Regions from separate parts of the Homo sapiens genome. Here region 2 is linked to region 1. Evidence: fine-mapped expression QTL. A gene starts in region 1. The other region holds a variant in brackets. All regions are shown on one strand. Distances are from middle to middle.

The links. PIP is the estimated chance that this variant, and not a neighbour inherited with it, causes the effect.
Region 2: its variant is the best candidate, but not a certain one, in a credible set for the expression of PRKCD in whole blood (INTERVAL, PIP 0.51).

The regions. Positions count from the first base shown.
Region 1 is chr3:53,156,397-53,164,529 of GRCh38, forward strand. It overlaps PRKCD (protein kinase C delta), which reads left to right and starts at 4,813. Exons shown (of 19, transcript NM_006254.4): 1 at 4,813-5,032. RefSeq lists enhancers at 84-584, 2,581-2,660 and silencers at 4,315-5,264, 5,535-5,764.
Region 2 is chr3:53,177,261-53,185,393 of GRCh38, forward strand. PRKCD (protein kinase C delta) reads left to right here. Exons shown (of 19, transcript NM_006254.4): 3 at 1,144-1,277; 4 at 2,317-2,516; 5 at 3,947-4,007; 6 at 4,184-4,346; 7 at 4,441-4,472; 8 at 5,861-5,946; 9 at 6,192-6,321; 10 at 7,614-7,714. The coding sequence starts at 1,163. Among named protein-coding and RNA genes, the nearest start is that of PRKCD, 20 kb to the left of the region's middle. RefSeq lists enhancers at 3,652-3,701, 3,962-4,121. The variant G/A (reference allele first, on the strand shown) is at 4,523.

The DNA of each region.
Region 1 (8,133 bases):
GGACGACCCTCACACCCAGGACCTCAGTTGCTCCATCCAAGGAATGGGCGAGCTCAGGTCTTCCTGACTTTCCTGGAGAACAAAGAGGGTGAGGAGGCGAAAGGGCCTCCCGGCGCCTGGAGCCAGGTGGCTGCCGGACCCGGGAATAGAGCCGGGTGTTTTATAGCGGGGTTTGCGTCACGCGGCTGGGCGGGCGTCTGCGCCCCCGGCTCGGAAAGGCTTCCCTGAGGCGGGGCGGGGCGGGGCGGGGCGGGAGGGTGGGGCCCGGGGGACTTTGTGCTGGTGCACGGGGGTCGCGCCGACTGGCGTGTACGTGGTTGTGCGGTGGGTATGGAGGTGTGTGCACGGCGCGGGGGACCCTGCTGTGCCTGCAGTCAGTCCTTCCCAGCCTGCCAACCTCGAGCAGCCGCCTTTCAGCTCAGGGCCACCCCCTACACTGTTTCCCATGGGCCAAGCTGGGTTTGGTGAGCTGTCCTCTGAGGATGTGGGGGATGAGGGGCTGAGAGGTGGGAGCGGGGAGCTGAGGCACCCTCAGGCCAGGGAGCGAAAGGAAAGGCAGGTGAGGCTTATAGCCCTCCCTGCCCTGCTAAGCCCCATGAGCCTCCCAGTAGGGACCCCGTAGATTAGAGCTAAATGGGTGCCGGGGATGGGGGCGGTGGAGGAGAGCTGGGAGGTCCCCTGGACTCCGTGCGAGGGGATAGCTCTTGCTGATGACTGTCCCAACACCAGTGCCCCTTCTCCCCACCTACACACATGTTTGGGGGCAGGGGCAGAGGAGCCAGGGAAGGGGACTCAGGCTGGCAGGGGCTGTGCCATGGTCAGTGCAGAGAAGGGACAGTCCAGGGTACACACCCCTGGGAGAGCCACAGGAAAGCCCTGTGTTCTGCACTCCCAGGACACACCTTCCCCTTGTCTACCCCCAAGTATGTCTCAGGTTTCACCCAAACACAAATGTGTTGAGGAAGGAACATGGAGGCAATTAGCCCAGCCTCACCAACTCTCTGCCTGGCAGGTAACACCAACATGGGATGAACTTGAACTCTTCCATCCTCTCAGCCTCAGGAGGTCGATCTTAACCAAACACCACTCCACAGATGAGGAAGCTGAGGCACATTTAAGTTGCAGTGCAGGGCAGAGCCAGGATGCGAACCAGCCCCTGGGCTGGCACTTCCCTGCTGTGCAGCACTACCCACAAGGCCACTGTCCCCCTCAGCCTGTCCTTGCTTGTCCTTAACCTAGTACCTGAGGCTGACACTCCTGTCGATGACAGTCTTGGTGGCCTGAGGCATGGGCATGTCCCAAGTGTCCTTCCTACTACACTGTCCCCAGTGGGAACCTCCCAGGCTCTGCTGCCCCCAGCAATTGCCCAGGTGCACTGTCGCTGTTGACTGTGTCTCCTGCTCCAGAAACACAAGCCCACTCTCTCTTGGCCAGGCCAGTGCTCTGGGTGTGATGGGGATTGCCGTGGCAACCAAAGCTTCAGGGACAAGGATGGTGACACAGAGAGACAGAAACAGAGAGAAGGTGCAAAAAGCAGAAATGCCAGGACAAGGACCAACTCTTGGCAGGGATCAAGTGAGGGACCCCATTTGCCTTCAGCTGTGTGGGCCTCAGGGACAGAGGGAGGCCTTTTCCAGGTTGCTTGGCCGAGTCTTGGACTTCAGGAGTGGAGGAGTCTGGAGGCCTCCCAGGGTTGATGGCCTTTGGAGGAGGCAGAGGTGGCAGGGGTCAAGTTGCTTCTCCTCTGGATAAATCCTCCAGGAGGCCCACAGAAGGAACAGCCCTGGGTGGATGCTGTGGGTGGGAGTCTGGAAGCTGCCTGGCACCACCCTAGCCCATCTCCTTGGCTGCAAACCTGGAGGAGGAGGAAAGTATCACCTCTAGGCAGCTGCTATGAGTCTAGCCCTGCTCAGGGATTTACGCCCCATGTCAGGAGAGGCCATTGAAGCCTCTTTCAAGGCTGACAGCCTGTGACTTGGCACATGACCAGGCTGTAACCCTGGGCAATGTGTCTAGCCTGGCCGAGGCTCTGTATATATCATCTCATTTAACTCTTACCACCTCATTCAACTCCTGACATGAGTCTGTCATCAGCCCTTTTCATAGGTGAGAACTCTGAAGCTGGGAGAGGCATGGTCACCTACTCAGGGTCATACAGTTGGCATGTGACACAGCCAAGGTTTGCTCTCAGGCTTCAGCAGGCCCTTCTTGTTGATGCAAGGCAGATTATGGGGACACAGATACCAGCTCATCTGGACCCTGCCCTGGCCCACCAGTGTGGCACCCAGAAGCAGCTCCAAGATGCAGGGTGGTTCTAGTCAAGCTTGGCCTGGATTCTCTGGACCTCATGCAAACCTATTCTCCCTGGAACCCTTGGACCTAAGGCCTGGAGGGAAGCCCACCTTCATCCCTTCTCTGCCCTCGCCACAGCATAGCTAGCACAGCCTTAGCCCCTCTGACCCTCTCTGAGTACATCGCACTTCCCCTTTCTCTAGAGGAGAAAGATTGGCTGAAGCCAGTGTATGCTTGCAGCCCCTGAGCTCACAAGTCTGCATATCCTGAGGATCAGGAAAGTGCTTCCTGTTGTCTAATGTAAATCTTGTTCCTGTAACACCAGTATATGTCAAAGCAGTGATTCTCAACAAGGGGTAATTTTGCCCTGCAGCAGACATTTGGCAATGTTTGGAGACATTTTTGTCTGTCACAAGTTAAAGCAGGGAGGTACTATTGGCATCCACTAGGCAGAGGCCAGGGATGCTGCTCAACATCCTTACAGTGCACAGGGCAGCCCCCACAGCAAAGAATCATCTGTCCCAAAGGTCAGTGGTGCTGAAATTGAGATCCCTGATGTAAACTATGGGCTTTGGAGCCAGACAGACCTCGGTCTGAATCTGCGTCTGCCACTGACTAGCTGTGTACTCTGGGGCAAGTCGCTTCTCCTTTCTCTGAGCCTCAGTTTGCTCATCACCAAAACTGGCACTAACAGCAGCCCTCACCTCTTGAGAACTGTTCAGACTGCCCACATCCAGCACCCAGCACACAGCCTGGTGCTGGGTAGCCCCTATCAGCGATAGCCATGATTATTCATTTCCTTCTTCCATGGTGAACCACACGGAGTGGGAACAAAGGTCTGGTGGCTGGACCTGGAGCTCCTCAAGGGTCAGTCCTCCCTCTGGCTGCAGTCCCTGGCACAGGGTGGGCCTATTGTTTATGTTGAGGGAGAGACTGGGTTGGCTTACTGTGGACCTGAAGGAGGAGCCAGAAGGAAACCCGATCCCAAGTGGGCAAAGGTCACTTGAGGCTCACCTTGTTTACCCTTTCCTCCAGTCCAACCCCAGGGAAGCCATGGGGCATGATGGGTGGGGTGGGATGGGATCAGGACACAGAACATGCTAATGAATATGGTCCTTCACTCAGGGAAGTGCCGTGCATTACAACTGGGCATCAGGGAGGAGGGACATTTGAATGGACACAACCAGGGCAGGTAGAGGTTTGGGGGTGGGGTGGGAAATGGCATTCAGGCCCAGAGAACAGCATGCTCAAGGCCTGGGTGTGAAGAGAAAGTCTTTCCCAAAGGATAGTCCTTGAACCCACCTGGTCTGGCCTTTTCTCCCCATCCATCTTCCGCAATCTCAACCAGGGTCCTCCCACCTGAACAACGTGGCAGCCCTTCTGTCCCCCATCCAGCCTCTCCTCTGCCCTGCTGTCCCTCTGCCCCATCTATCCCGCAGGAGCCCCCTTGAGCCTGTCATCCTGCCTGGTTGTAATAGCTTTCACCACCTTCTCATTGCTCTGTGAGAAGACCAAAGTCCAATGGCCTGTCTCTGTCACAAGCCCCTTTCTCAGCTCAGGCCACCTCAGGGATTGTCCCCCACTTCCATCCCTTGTGTCTCAGCTGGGAAGAGCTGTCTAGACTTTCTCTATCCCTTCTAGGTGGTTCCCCAGGACCTGGAACCCTCTTTTTTGTCTCCTGGGAAGTGACATTTCTTTGGATGAGTATAAGGCTAATGTCTTGGCTTTCTGAGCTCTGGGGACAGGGGAATGGACTCCCTAGAACCCCAACTGGTCCCTAGACTTTGAGCCTAGGGGACACTCGGTGAATAGATGAATGAGTGAATGAATGAATGAAGGAGTTATGGCTGACAACCAAGTTCCATGTCTGGAAAGGAGGCTCAGGCGCCTGCCAGGAGCAATAGAGAGGTCTCAAAGGTGGGGGCAGGAAAGCAGAAGACTGCCAATCGGGGTAGGGGCAACTGCCAGTCCGAGTAGGGGCAGTTCCCAGAACCGCCTGAGGAGCAGTGCAGCGCCCGACCAGCGAGAACCTCCGACCCTGGAGTCTAACCAGCTCAGTCTTTGGGGCAGAGCCGGGACAGCGGGCTTGGCGGCGGGCACCGCGCCCGGCCGCGTCCGAGCTCCAGCCAACAGGAAGAGCAGGAGTGGGGCCAGGAGAGGCGGGCCAGCTGGCCAGTGGGGAGTCCCGGGCGTGGGTGTGGGGAGCGGGGGAACCCCCGCCGGCCCCTCCCAGGCCCCAGCGGGCGGAGGGAGCCTCCCCACCGGGCCTCAGCGTCCTCCTCTGTAAAATGGGCCCCTTCTGAGGGCTGGCTGCGCGCTAATGGCGGGAGGATGCGAAGAGGGCCAGGCAGGGCAGAGGGACCGGGAGACTCGGTGTCCCGCGCAGGCAGAGGCGGAGGGACGCTGTCCCCGATTGCAGCTGGCGGGGCGAGGCCTGGCAGGGCGAGGCCTGGCGGGGGCGGGGCCTGGCGGGGGCGGGGCCGGCGGCACCTGGGTGAGGTCGCTCGGCCCCGCCCCCTCGCACTTCCGTGTGCCGCGGCGCCGGAGCCCGAGGCGGCTGTAGCCCACATCTCCCGAGCGACCCCCGGCGCCCGCCCGCCGCGCGGAGGCCCGGGCCACACCTCACTGGCCGCTTGGCCCATCCCAGTCAGCGCCGCGCCGAACCCCGTCCGCGCGCGCCGGGGAGCGGCGCCCCCGCCGCTGCCGCCGCGACCCTTGGCGCCTGCCCCTGCAACGGGAGGTAAGTGAGGGCCGGGTCCGGGCGCGGGATCGGGGCTACCCCGAGGGCGCGGCGCCCTTCCTTCCCCCTTCCCGCCCCAGTTCCCGTTTCCGAAACTGAGAAACTGAGCCGCGGTCAGCGAAAGTCCCGCCGCGCCGAGACCTGCCGGTGACTCCGTCCCCCTGTCCGTCTGTGTGTCCCTCCGCTAGACAGTGGGGGCTGAGGTCCTTCTGTCTGCCCGCTCCCGGCCCCTCCACCCGCCCGTGTGTCTCCCGCTCCTCCGAGGGGCCCGTCCGTCCCTCCCGACTCTCTCCCGGGCCCTGTGTCCGTCCGTCTGTCGCCACCCACTCTGTGTTCTCCCCCTGCGCGCCTCTCCGAGACCCGATCCTTCTGTCCCTCGCCACCCGATCCGTCCGTCCCTTGCCCTCCGCGTGCTCCATCGCCCCACCCCCACCCACACCCCTACCCCCGCCCGCCGCCCCCTCGATCCCGTCCTCCCGGAGCCGCGCCCCCGGCCCACGCTCGCCGCCCCCTGCCAGTCCAGCCGCCTCTCCGCTCTACCGCGGGGCCCAGGCCAGGCCGCCCGCCGGGCCTCGCCTCCCGCCCCTGGGTCCCTGGAGGCCCGACCCGCGCGGCGCCTCCTCCTCGCTGTCTCTTCTTTCGGTCTCAAGAGTCTTTCTCGGTCCCTTCATCCGTCTCTGGGCTGGGCGTGGCTCCAGTCTCCACCATCCCCCTTCCCACCCCACCCCTCCGCCCCTCTGAGACCCCTCCCAGGGTGGCCCCTGCCCGATACGGTCTGTACTCGCCCCCAACCCAGATGCCACTCCCGTTGTGGGGGCTCCACCAGATGAGGGGAGGAGGTCGGGGGGGGGGGTCCTCCTGGCTGGTGGTGGAGCGGCAGAAGGAGAGCACCATCGGAACTGCTCCCACTTCCCCAGTTCCCTCTCTCTTGGGGCAGGGGAGAGCCCCACCGAGCCCCGCCTTAAACCTGGTCAGAAGGATCTGCTGTGAGTGGGCGGGGGGTCCCCTTCTCTGACGCCTACCCTGTATGCGTGGAAGCTGTCTCCTTGTGCTAAGTCACTGGTATCTGGGTGTGTGGGTATGTTGTGTGTCTGTGTCAGCTTCTGTGCTGTCTGTCACTGTGGGACTTGCCTGTGCATGTGTGTCCTTTTTCGCATGTGTGACTTGCTTGTGTGTATGTGTGTATGTCTGTTTGTGTCCTGAGGCTCTGTGTGTGTCTTTTGCAACTGTGTGTACCATTCTTGGTGTGTTTGTTGTCACCAGACTCGTGTGTGTGTGTGTGTGTGTGTGTGTCCTTGCCTGCTAGTGTGTGTGTCCCTGTGTGTCTGGAGGTTTCGGTGTTGCACACTGGGTATATCATGGTGACCAACTGGCCATGAGTACGTTAGATCTGTTAATTGTGGAAGCCCCTGGTGTTGGGTGCCTACCCACCAGTCTCATGTGTGAGTGTATCTGTATAAGTGTGTGTATGTGTGTGTACTCACGTGTGGCTCTCCCTCTGCCACTGAGTTTCTGTGACCAGGCCCACCTGGTCACTAAGGGAGGGGACTGATCCCTGGGGTTTCCTCGTTCCTGCTGTGGAGTGAGCTGGGGCTTGGTGAGCAGGCCAGCAGAGGGAGGCTGTATGGTGCATGTGTGATATGTGTGGTTGTGTGTGTGCGTGTGTGTGTGACAGAGAGGTGTGGTGGTGTCTGGGCAGCTGTACCTGGCTGATGGGTGGTGTGAGGGCTATGCGATGGGACAGTGCTGGGGTAAGCCTGGGAGTGTGTGGCCACGGTAGGAGTGTGTGACTGGTGGGACACAGTCTATGAAACTGCCGGTGTATGCTTGGGGAGTGACTGTGATTGTGGGGAACCGAGAGTGCCTGGGCGTGGGTGTTAGCGGCAGGAGGGGGTGTGACAAGGTGTGTGGTGACAGTGCTGGGAGGGAAGGTGAGAGCCCAGTGTGGGGGTGTGTGTGTGAGTGTGTGGGAGACCATGAGGATGTGGGTGTGCACATGGAGAGGGCTAGAGGGCAAGTCTTGGGGTTTGTAGTGTTGTGACCAAGACCTCGGGCTCTGTACCCAAGAATTATTTGGGCTCCAATACTTGCTTGTGCCTGTTAAGAGCAAGAGACCCAAGCTAGGCCTCTCAAGGCTGAGTGTCCTTATCTGCAGAATGGAGAGAGTGAGGACAAAAGTTCCTGTGTTAAAGGTCCTTTAACACAATCTTGGCCCATAGTGAGAACACAGCACATGTGAAGTCTTTTGTTGTCACCACCCCCAGCTATACGGTTCCCATTCTCCTGGGAGCTGGGGCTAAAGAAAGCCCAGACAGTATCCAACCCAATTTCCTGCCTGTCTGTTGCCCCTTCCCATCTCCTTGACCAAGCAGCTTGAGGGAGGGGGGATGCCCAGACAGAGCCCCCAGTACCCAGCCCTGTTCAGCCTGCATGACAGCCCCTCCCTCACCAGACCTTAGTGTCAGTAGTAGCGATGGGGGAGACAGGGGTGGGGGATGATTCAGAGCTGTGACTGCAGGGCGCTGACACCATTTAGCTGGCACAGTTTAGATTAAAATTAGAAATAATTTAAAGTACAGACAAAAAGATAAAGCCAAGGATGCCTCTGCCCCCAGGGAATGGTGATGGGGGTCTCCAGCTGGGGGAGGGGTTCACATCTGGGGAGCAGAATCTTTCTTAGAGGCTTGAGCTGGCCTTCAGAGAAAATGCTTAGGCCTTTCAGCCAGGAGACACAGAGTACCTTGCTACCTTTGCCATTTCTTCCTCCCAGGATATCTCCAGGCCTCAGTTTTTTCAGCTGTGTAATGGGCACAATAGTAATGTGAGAATCACCTGAACTGTAAGGCACAAGAGATTAAAAAATGTCACTCTTCAGTCTGGGCACGGTGGCTCACACCTGTAATCCCAGCATTTTGGGAAGCCGAGGCAGGTGGATCACTTGGTCAGGAATTTGAGACCAGCCTGGCCAACATGGTGAAACCCTGTCTGTACCAAAACTACAAAAATTAGCTGGGTGTGGTGGCGCGCACCTGTAATCTCAGCTGCTCAGGAGGCTGAGGCACGAGAATCACTTGAGACCAGGAGGCAGAGGTTGCAGTGAG
Region 2 (8,133 bases), 21 kb after region 1:
ATTATGGGAGTGAGCCACCATGCCCACCTGTTTTATATTTGGGGAAATAATTAGTTTGAAGGTGCAGGCAACCTTCCAGGCAAGCGAGAGGCACTCGACCCCAAGGGGTCAATTTAGAAGGGTCAGGCACACTGATGTGGGCAGAGCCTCTCACTGCCCTGATCCCTGAACAGAGTGGGTGCCAAGTTAGTGGAATGTCAGCTTTTGGTTCTGATTCTCTGCCTTAGGGTTTCAGTTTCCCCATCTGAAAAGTGGGGGGTGTTTATCTTGGCACTGCTTGTCTGCCTGGGTAGTTATGAAGAAAAAACCCCAAACTTAGAAAATCATGAAGGGCTGCATGGGGCAGGATGGGAGAAAGAGGCAGTACTGTCCTGTCCCCTTACCAGGTGACAATGGCACATACCAGGTGCCTGGCATGGAGCAGGTACCCAGCAATAGGGTACTTAGGGAGTCACTGAGTGACTCCCCAAATGAATATCTAGGGGTGACAGATGCAAATGCCACCAGGGCCCAGGTAGGAGGAGTGAAGAGAGTGCCCCTGGCCTGGGGTAGATTGATGGAGGGCAGCCATCCCAGTGCTAGCTGGCTGTTGCCCAGTGGGCCCAACATCACATTTTCCAGTTTTACCAGAGACGCCGCAAATCCAGACTTACATAAACCTCTCAATATTTTTCTTTTTCTTTTTCTTTTTTTTTTTTTTTTGAGACGGAGTTTGGCTCTTGTCACCCAGGCTGGAGTGTACTGGTGCGATCTTGGCTCACTGCAACCTCCGCCTCCCGGGTTCAAGTGATTCTCCTGCCTCAGCCTCCCGAGTAGCTGGAATTACAGGCATGCACCACCACACCCAGCTAATTTTTAGTAGAGATGGCTTTTCACCATGTTGGTCAGGCTGGTCTCAAACTCCTGACCTCAGGCCATCTGCCTACCTTGGCCTCCCAAAGTGCTGGGATTACAGGCGTCAGCCACTGCGCCTGGCAAACCTCTCAGTTTTTAACACTGGCAACTGAGACTAGTGTGTGTGTGCATCATGTGGGCCAAACCCAATCATAGCAGAGCCCTGGGGGAGCGGGTCCCTGAGTGCTGCCCGTGACTGTTCCCGCTGGTCCCGCCCGGCCGCCTGGCCTCACCCCTCTGTGTGCACAGCCCCACTGCAGGCCCCACCATGGCGCCGTTCCTGCGCATCGCCTTCAACTCCTATGAGCTGGGCTCCCTGCAGGCCGAGGACGAGGCGAACCAGCCCTTCTGTGCCGTGAAGATGAAGGAGGCGCTCAGCACAGGTAGGCCTGGAGGCTGGACCCTGGAGAGGGGCTGGGAATCTGGGCCCAGCTGGAAGGACTGGAGGGGGCCTGGCCTTGTTCCCTGCAACCTCTGAAGGATTCTGCTCTTCCTCATCCTTGACTCCCTGCCCCACTCAGCTATGAAGGCAGAGGCCACTGAGTCGCTATAGGGCTGCAAACACTGGCCAAATTGAGCCCTCCTTGGAAGGCTTGGAGTTTCTGGTTCCTCCTCCCTGGTTGTTTTACCCAGCAATTTTTACATGTCCATTTGTGCCAGGGCCTGTGCGGGGCACTGAGGATACTGTCATGCTCCAGGACTAACCTGGCCCTGCCCTCATGGGGTTCATAGTCAGGTGGGGAAACCAGGCACGTCAAAAAGCAGTGAGTCCTGCAATAGGGAAGCCCAGAGAAGGCACCCTCTGAACCTGAGGTCAGGGAGGACTTCCTGGAGGAAGCACATACCTCACATCATTCCCTCTTGCTTTTGCCCTGGCCTGGTGAACCCCTATTTGTCCCTCAGGTCTCGGCTGAACTGTTCCTTCCTCTAGGAAATCTTCCCTGACCCTTAGGCTTGACCCTGTAGCACTACCAGCCTTGCCCTCTTCAGTCTCATCACAACTGTGACTTAACAGTTACTTGAGGAAGGAGTTGGTGCATTCGCCACCCGGGCCTGGGGATCCAGGAGGACAGGCCCTGGATGTAGCTTTTCTTTCAGCTGTGTTCTGCGCCTCGAATATTATGGCTGGCATGCAGGAGCTGTCAGCCCATGTTCCCTGCATGAATGCATAAGGGCAGGCGACATTTAAATGGAGCTGGAGCAAGAGGATCAGAGGAAGAGGGAACAGCAGGAACAAAGGCCTGGAGGGAGGACCTAGCAGGGTGCCCAAGGTAGTTCTGTGCTCTAGAGGACACTGGGGAACCACAGCAGGCCCTCAAGGCAGGAGAGTCGGGCAGATTCTGCCAGGGGAAGGCCGTGGAGGTCTACGAGGGAGGGACAGAGGGGCCATGGCCCAACCTTCTCTGCCTGGCCTTGTTGCAGAGCGTGGGAAAACACTGGTGCAGAAGAAGCCGACCATGTATCCTGAGTGGAAGTCGACGTTCGATGCCCACATCTATGAGGGGCGCGTCATCCAGATTGTGCTAATGCGGGCAGCAGAGGAGCCAGTGTCTGAGGTGACCGTGGGTGTGTCGGTGCTGGCCGAGCGCTGCAAGAAGAACAATGGCAAGGCTGAGTTCTGGGTAAGGGGCGCACGAGCCGTGCCGTGTGTGTGTGTGTGTGTGTCTGTGTGTGTGTGCATGCGTGCATGTGTGTGCGTGCACACACGCGGGCTTGGTCAGTGAGCACAGCTGAAGAGCACCGGGCCCTGTGCTGGCCACCAGTCCAGCCCTGTGGCCAACATGTCCTGGGTGTGAATCCTGGCTCTGCAATTCACCAGATTCCCAGCCTCTCTGAGCTTCTGCTTCCGCATCTGTTAAGGGAAGGCGCTACTAAATGTGCCTACCTCAGGGTCAGTTGTTCAAATGAAAGGAGCAGCTGGATGTACAGGGCTTATTGCAGAACCTGACACATAGCAGGTGCTAAAGACGGCCAACTTCCTTATTGTGACTACTTTTTCCTTTTTAATTTTGGAAAGGCAGGATATGCACATAGTAAAACATTTTTAACTGCATGAAAGGGTGTGTCCCTGCCCCAACACCAGGCCACCAGGCCTCCTTCCCAGAGGCACCCATTATCCCAGTTCTTTTTGGAATCTTCGCATATATTCTAGGCCTTGGCAGCCATTGAGGGGGCAACATAGTGATCTTTAACAGCAAGGAGGTGGGAGAAGGGGAGGCTGACGGTCTCATCTACTTACCTGCTGAAATGGAGACTCTGCACAAGCATGTGGCCACTTGGCCATGTGCAGCTGTGTGTTCTGGGTGGCCACAGGATGCCAGTGCTGGCAGAAGTCCCCTGGGGTTACATGTGGGATGTAACCAAGATGTCTCCACCAGGAAAGGCCCTGTGACCATTGGAGGCTCTGATCAGCCTCCTGCGAGGGGTGAGGGGGCTGGGATGGGAGAGAGGTTAACACAGGGCTGTACTGACCCTTGGCCAGTCAGGCAGGGACACAGAGGGGCCTCTGGCTGTGCTGTCTCCGCTCCCCCAAGGGAGGATATCAGTCACCAGGTCTAGGTCTTGGGGGAGGTGAGGGGATAGAGGCTCAGGTCCCACCCTCGAGACTGTCCAATCTGCATGAGGAGCCCTCGGCACAGAGGGAGGAGCAGCGTGTGTGCACGAGGATGAGTGTGTCTGTGTGTCTGTCTCTCTCCGCATGTGCACACGGGTAGGGGCCTCCATTCTAAGATCCTTGCTAAGGGAGCTGCAGCGGGTAGGGGTGGGGAATTTCCCTTCCCGCTCTATTCCCCAGCTATGTGTCTGGGCTGGGTGTGGGCTGGACCCTTTCACTTCCCTAAATGTAATAATACCCCTGGGTACAGGGTGGGGGTGGGGCTCAGGAGTGGGGCTCAGGCGGGGCCCTGCCCACACTGGGCAGACAAGTGTCTGGCTAGGCCTTGGGGGGCTGCCTTGGCCTTGGGGGACCAGCCATGGGGGTGGGTTCTGAGTTTGGCCTGGCCCAGGCTGCCCTCACTGACCTTGTTCTCCCCTGGCCTCTGGCCCCCAACAGCTGGACCTGCAGCCTCAGGCCAAGGTGTTGATGTCTGTTCAGTATTTCCTGGAGGACGTGGGTAAGAACTCCCTGGGGGTGGAGGGCTCCCTTGCCGGGTTCAGAGGCAGAGCCAGCACTGAGGTGTAGGGAAGCTGCTCCCTTCGGCAGAGCTGTCCAGGACCACCCTGGGAGGGACTGTAGGGGTGCCACCCCTTCCAGATACCAGGGCTGACTTCCCTACTCCATGGTCACCAGATTGCAAACAGTCTATGCGCAGTGAGGACGAGGCCAAGTTCCCAACGATGAACCGCCGCGGAGCCATCAAACAGGCCAAAATCCACTACATCAAGAACCATGAGTTTATCGCCACCTTCTTTGGGCAACCCACCTTCTGTTCTGTGTGCAAAGACTTTGTCTGGTGAGAACCGGCCATGCCCACTGGTGGTGGTGCAGGGTAGTGGGGGCCGATCCCGGTCCCCGCTCACTCACTTTGCCTGGGTTTTGCCTTTCAGGGGCCTCAACAAGCAAGGCTACAAATGCAGGCGTAAGTGTCTCCACAGGCCAGTTTGTACGTATGTACCCATGTGTGCTCAC[G/A]TGTGCCAGTGCCTGTGTGTATGCCAGTGCCTGTGTGCGCTCAGAGAGTGTATGCACGTGAGTTTTCCCAGTGTAGATACAGCAGCTGAGTTCAGTGAGTGCTGGGGCTGGCTTGCTGCTGCTCTGGAAAACCAGTTCTGCGCATCTCTTCCCAGCTCCGCATTCAGTGACGGGGAGTTGGTGGATGGCAATTGGGCACAGTAGAGTATTCACGCAGAAACCAGCCCAGGCCATGCACCAGGCCTCTTTTCCTCGGAGAGGCAATGATAGGTCCTTTACTGGCACATAGTGGCTGCATGTGCTTCTGTGTAGATGTGGGTGTCTCTGAGTACACAGGTGTGAGCACACTCTGTCCCTGAGGGTGTATACACGAGGCGCCGCAGGCTGGAGTCAGACTGCCTGGGTTTGAATCCCAGCTCTACCACTTCCTAGCTATAGGGCCTTAGGCAAAGTTACTTAACCTCTCTGTGCCTCAGTTTCCTCATCTATAATTTTTTTTTTTTTGAGACTGAGTCTCATTCTGTTGCCCAAGCTAGAGTGCAGTTGTGCGATCTCAGCTCACTGTAACCTCCCTCTCCAAGGTTCAAGCGATTCTCTTGCCTTAGCCTCCTGAGTAGCTGGGATTACAGGCGTGCACCACCATGCCCGGCTAATTTTTGTATTTTTAGTAGAATAGGGGCTTTGTCATGTTGGCCAGGCTGGTCTCAAACTCCTGACCTCAAGTGACTCACCCACCTCAGCCTCCCAAAGTGCTGGGATTATAGGCGTGAGCCATCGTGCCTGGCCCTCATCTATAAATTAGATATAACTATAATGTATAATAGGGTCATTGTGAAGATCAAATGGAATAAGATATGTAAAGCTGTATTTTAAGTGCCTTCCACTGGTAGCCGCTCTGTGTAAGAAGTCTGTTATCATTATTACACATGCTTTGTGTGTATGTACAGGTGTCTGTTTTGAGGCGTGTCCATGTGCATGTGTAAGAGAGGGCATTTAGGAGCCGTTTGCTATCCCAGGGCTTGGAAGAACTGCCCCCGCTTCTCATATTGCGATGCCCTGTGCCCGCTAACTTCTGCCCACCTCCCTGCCCACTAGGACTCCTTCTTTCTAAGCCCCTGCAGATTGGCCTGTCCTCTCCGCCCCGTCCTCTCCAGGCTCCTCCTTCGAGGGCTGGCAGGAGGAAGACTCAAGCGCTGGGCCTCTGCGGGGTGAGGGTGTGGGCGGTCAGGAGAACGGTGGCTTTGTGTAGAGGGCTAGACTGGTCGGCAGGCACCAGCTCATAGACTCTGCCCCTCCCGGTGCTTTCCCTTCCCCCTCCTGGGCCTGTGCCTCTTCAAGAATGTAACGCTGCCATCCACAAGAAATGCATCGACAAGATCATCGGCAGATGCACTGGCACCGCGGCCAACAGCCGGGACACTATAGTGAGCCTGGGTCCGGGGCAGGGCTGGGGATCTGGGGGGCTTGGCCAGATGGGAGGGATTTGCACCCTCTCCCCACCCTCCCTGGGGAGCTTACCCTCCCTCCCCATTTTTCTTAGTCTTTCCTTGCCTCTCCCAGTGGAGCTCTCTTGGGATGTTGTTGTGCCCAGGGTTGGGGGAGAGCTAGGGGTTGAAGAAGAGGCTGGAGCTGGCACGTGACCCTCAGCCTGTGATACCCCCACCTCCAGTTCCAGAAAGAACGCTTCAACATCGACATGCCGCACCGCTTCAAGGTTCACAACTACATGAGCCCCACCTTCTGTGACCACTGCGGCAGCCTGCTCTGGGGACTGGTGAAGCAGGGATTAAAGTGTGAAGGTGCGTGCCACCCCGCCCCTGGGCTGCAGGAGGGGCACTCCCAGCTGGTGCTGCTGTGAATTCCAGCCACCTCACGCCACCCTCGCCTCCTCACCTGGAGACGGGCACCTCATTCAGGGACCTGATGAGGGTGAGGCCTTGGTGGACCCTCCCCACTGGCCTGACTGGCTCTGCCACTTACCTGCTGTGTGACCACAGGTGGGCGGCTCCACCCCTCTGAGCCATTTGGAGGAGAAAAGCAGGACCTAGAGAGTCCCTGTGAGGGGCCAGTGGGCAGAGGGTGCTGAAGCCAGGCCTGGTGCACACCGACAGGCGCCCAGACAGGCCTCCCCTGCCCTCTGCTTCACTTAGAGATGAGACAGAAGACCCTGGAGGGAAAGCGGCTTAAGTTGACCAGATGTTCTTTAAAGGGTTTCGAATTAGGTCCCTGTCTTCTGGTTTTTCCTTTTTCTTTAAATCATGAAAGATTGGCTGGGCGCGGTGGCTCACGTCTGTAATCCCAGCACTTTGGGAGGCCGAGGCGGGCGGATCATGAGGTTAGGAGATCGAGACCATCCTGGCTAACATGGTGAAACCCTGTCTCTACTAAAAAAATACAAAAAAATTAGCCTGGCGTGGTGGCGGGCGCCTGTAGTCCCAGCTGCTCGGGAGGCTGAGGCAGGAGAATGGCGTGAACCCAGGAGGCAGAGCTTGCAGTGAGCCGAAATCATGTCACTGTACTCCAGCCTGGGTGACAGAGTGAGACTCCGTCTCAACAACAACAACAACAACAACAACAACAACAACAAAAATCATGAAAGATTGAAATGCTTGGCCGGGCGTGGTGGCTCACACCTGTAATCCCAGCACTTTGGGAGGCCGAGGCAGGTGGATCACCTGAGGTGGGGAGTTCGAGACCAGCCTGGCTAACATGGAAAAACCCCGTCTCTACTAAAAATACAAAATTAGCCGGATATGGTGGCGCATGCCTGTAATCCCAGCTACTCAGGAGGCTGAGGCAGGAGAATCCCTTGAACCCAGGAGGCAGAGGTTGCGGTGAGCCGAGATTGCGCCACTGCACTCCAGCCTGGGCAATAAGAGGGAAACTCCATCTCAAAAAAAAAAAAAAAAGAGAGAGAGAGAGAGAGATCGAAGTATTTATGATGGCTTCAGATCAATGTTTTCCTAGAAACTGGAACCCAGCAGACCCCACTGAAGCCCTCCTTTCTCTTGCTCTCCTGCGCCTCTCCTACACTGCCCCCTGCCCTTGGCTGAGCTCTGAGACTGACAGCCCCGCTTCTCCCTCACCCCAGACTGCGGCATGAATGTGCACCATAAATGCCGGGAGAAGGTGGCCAACCTCTGCGGCATCAACCAGAAGCTTTTGGCTGAGGCCTTGAACCAAGTCACCCAGGTGGGCAGGTGCCATGGGGACCCTGGACACAGGGCAGTGGGGTCAGGGACAGTCAAGGCTTACAGCCACTGCTGGGGAGCCACAGACAGCCAGGATATATTTAGACCCAGGACTCTACTTCGGGAAGATGCAACTCAAGAATTTAGGCAGCAGAGGGAGGGGGGCTTTTTTTCATAAGAAATTCATTATTCAGGCAGTTCTTTACTTGAGGGTGAACCTGGGGACCACAGGAGTGGGTGTTGGAACACTTTGAACTAAGACTTTGGGTGTGGACGTTTGTATGTGGGGGGGGCTTGAGGGATGCCACAAAACCTAAAGGTAAAATTTTAGAATCAATCAGAAATGAAGCTAAATAGTCAAATAAAATCTATCGAGTGAGTGGTTGGGAAGGTAGGGTTCCGTTTACAAAACTTCTGTTT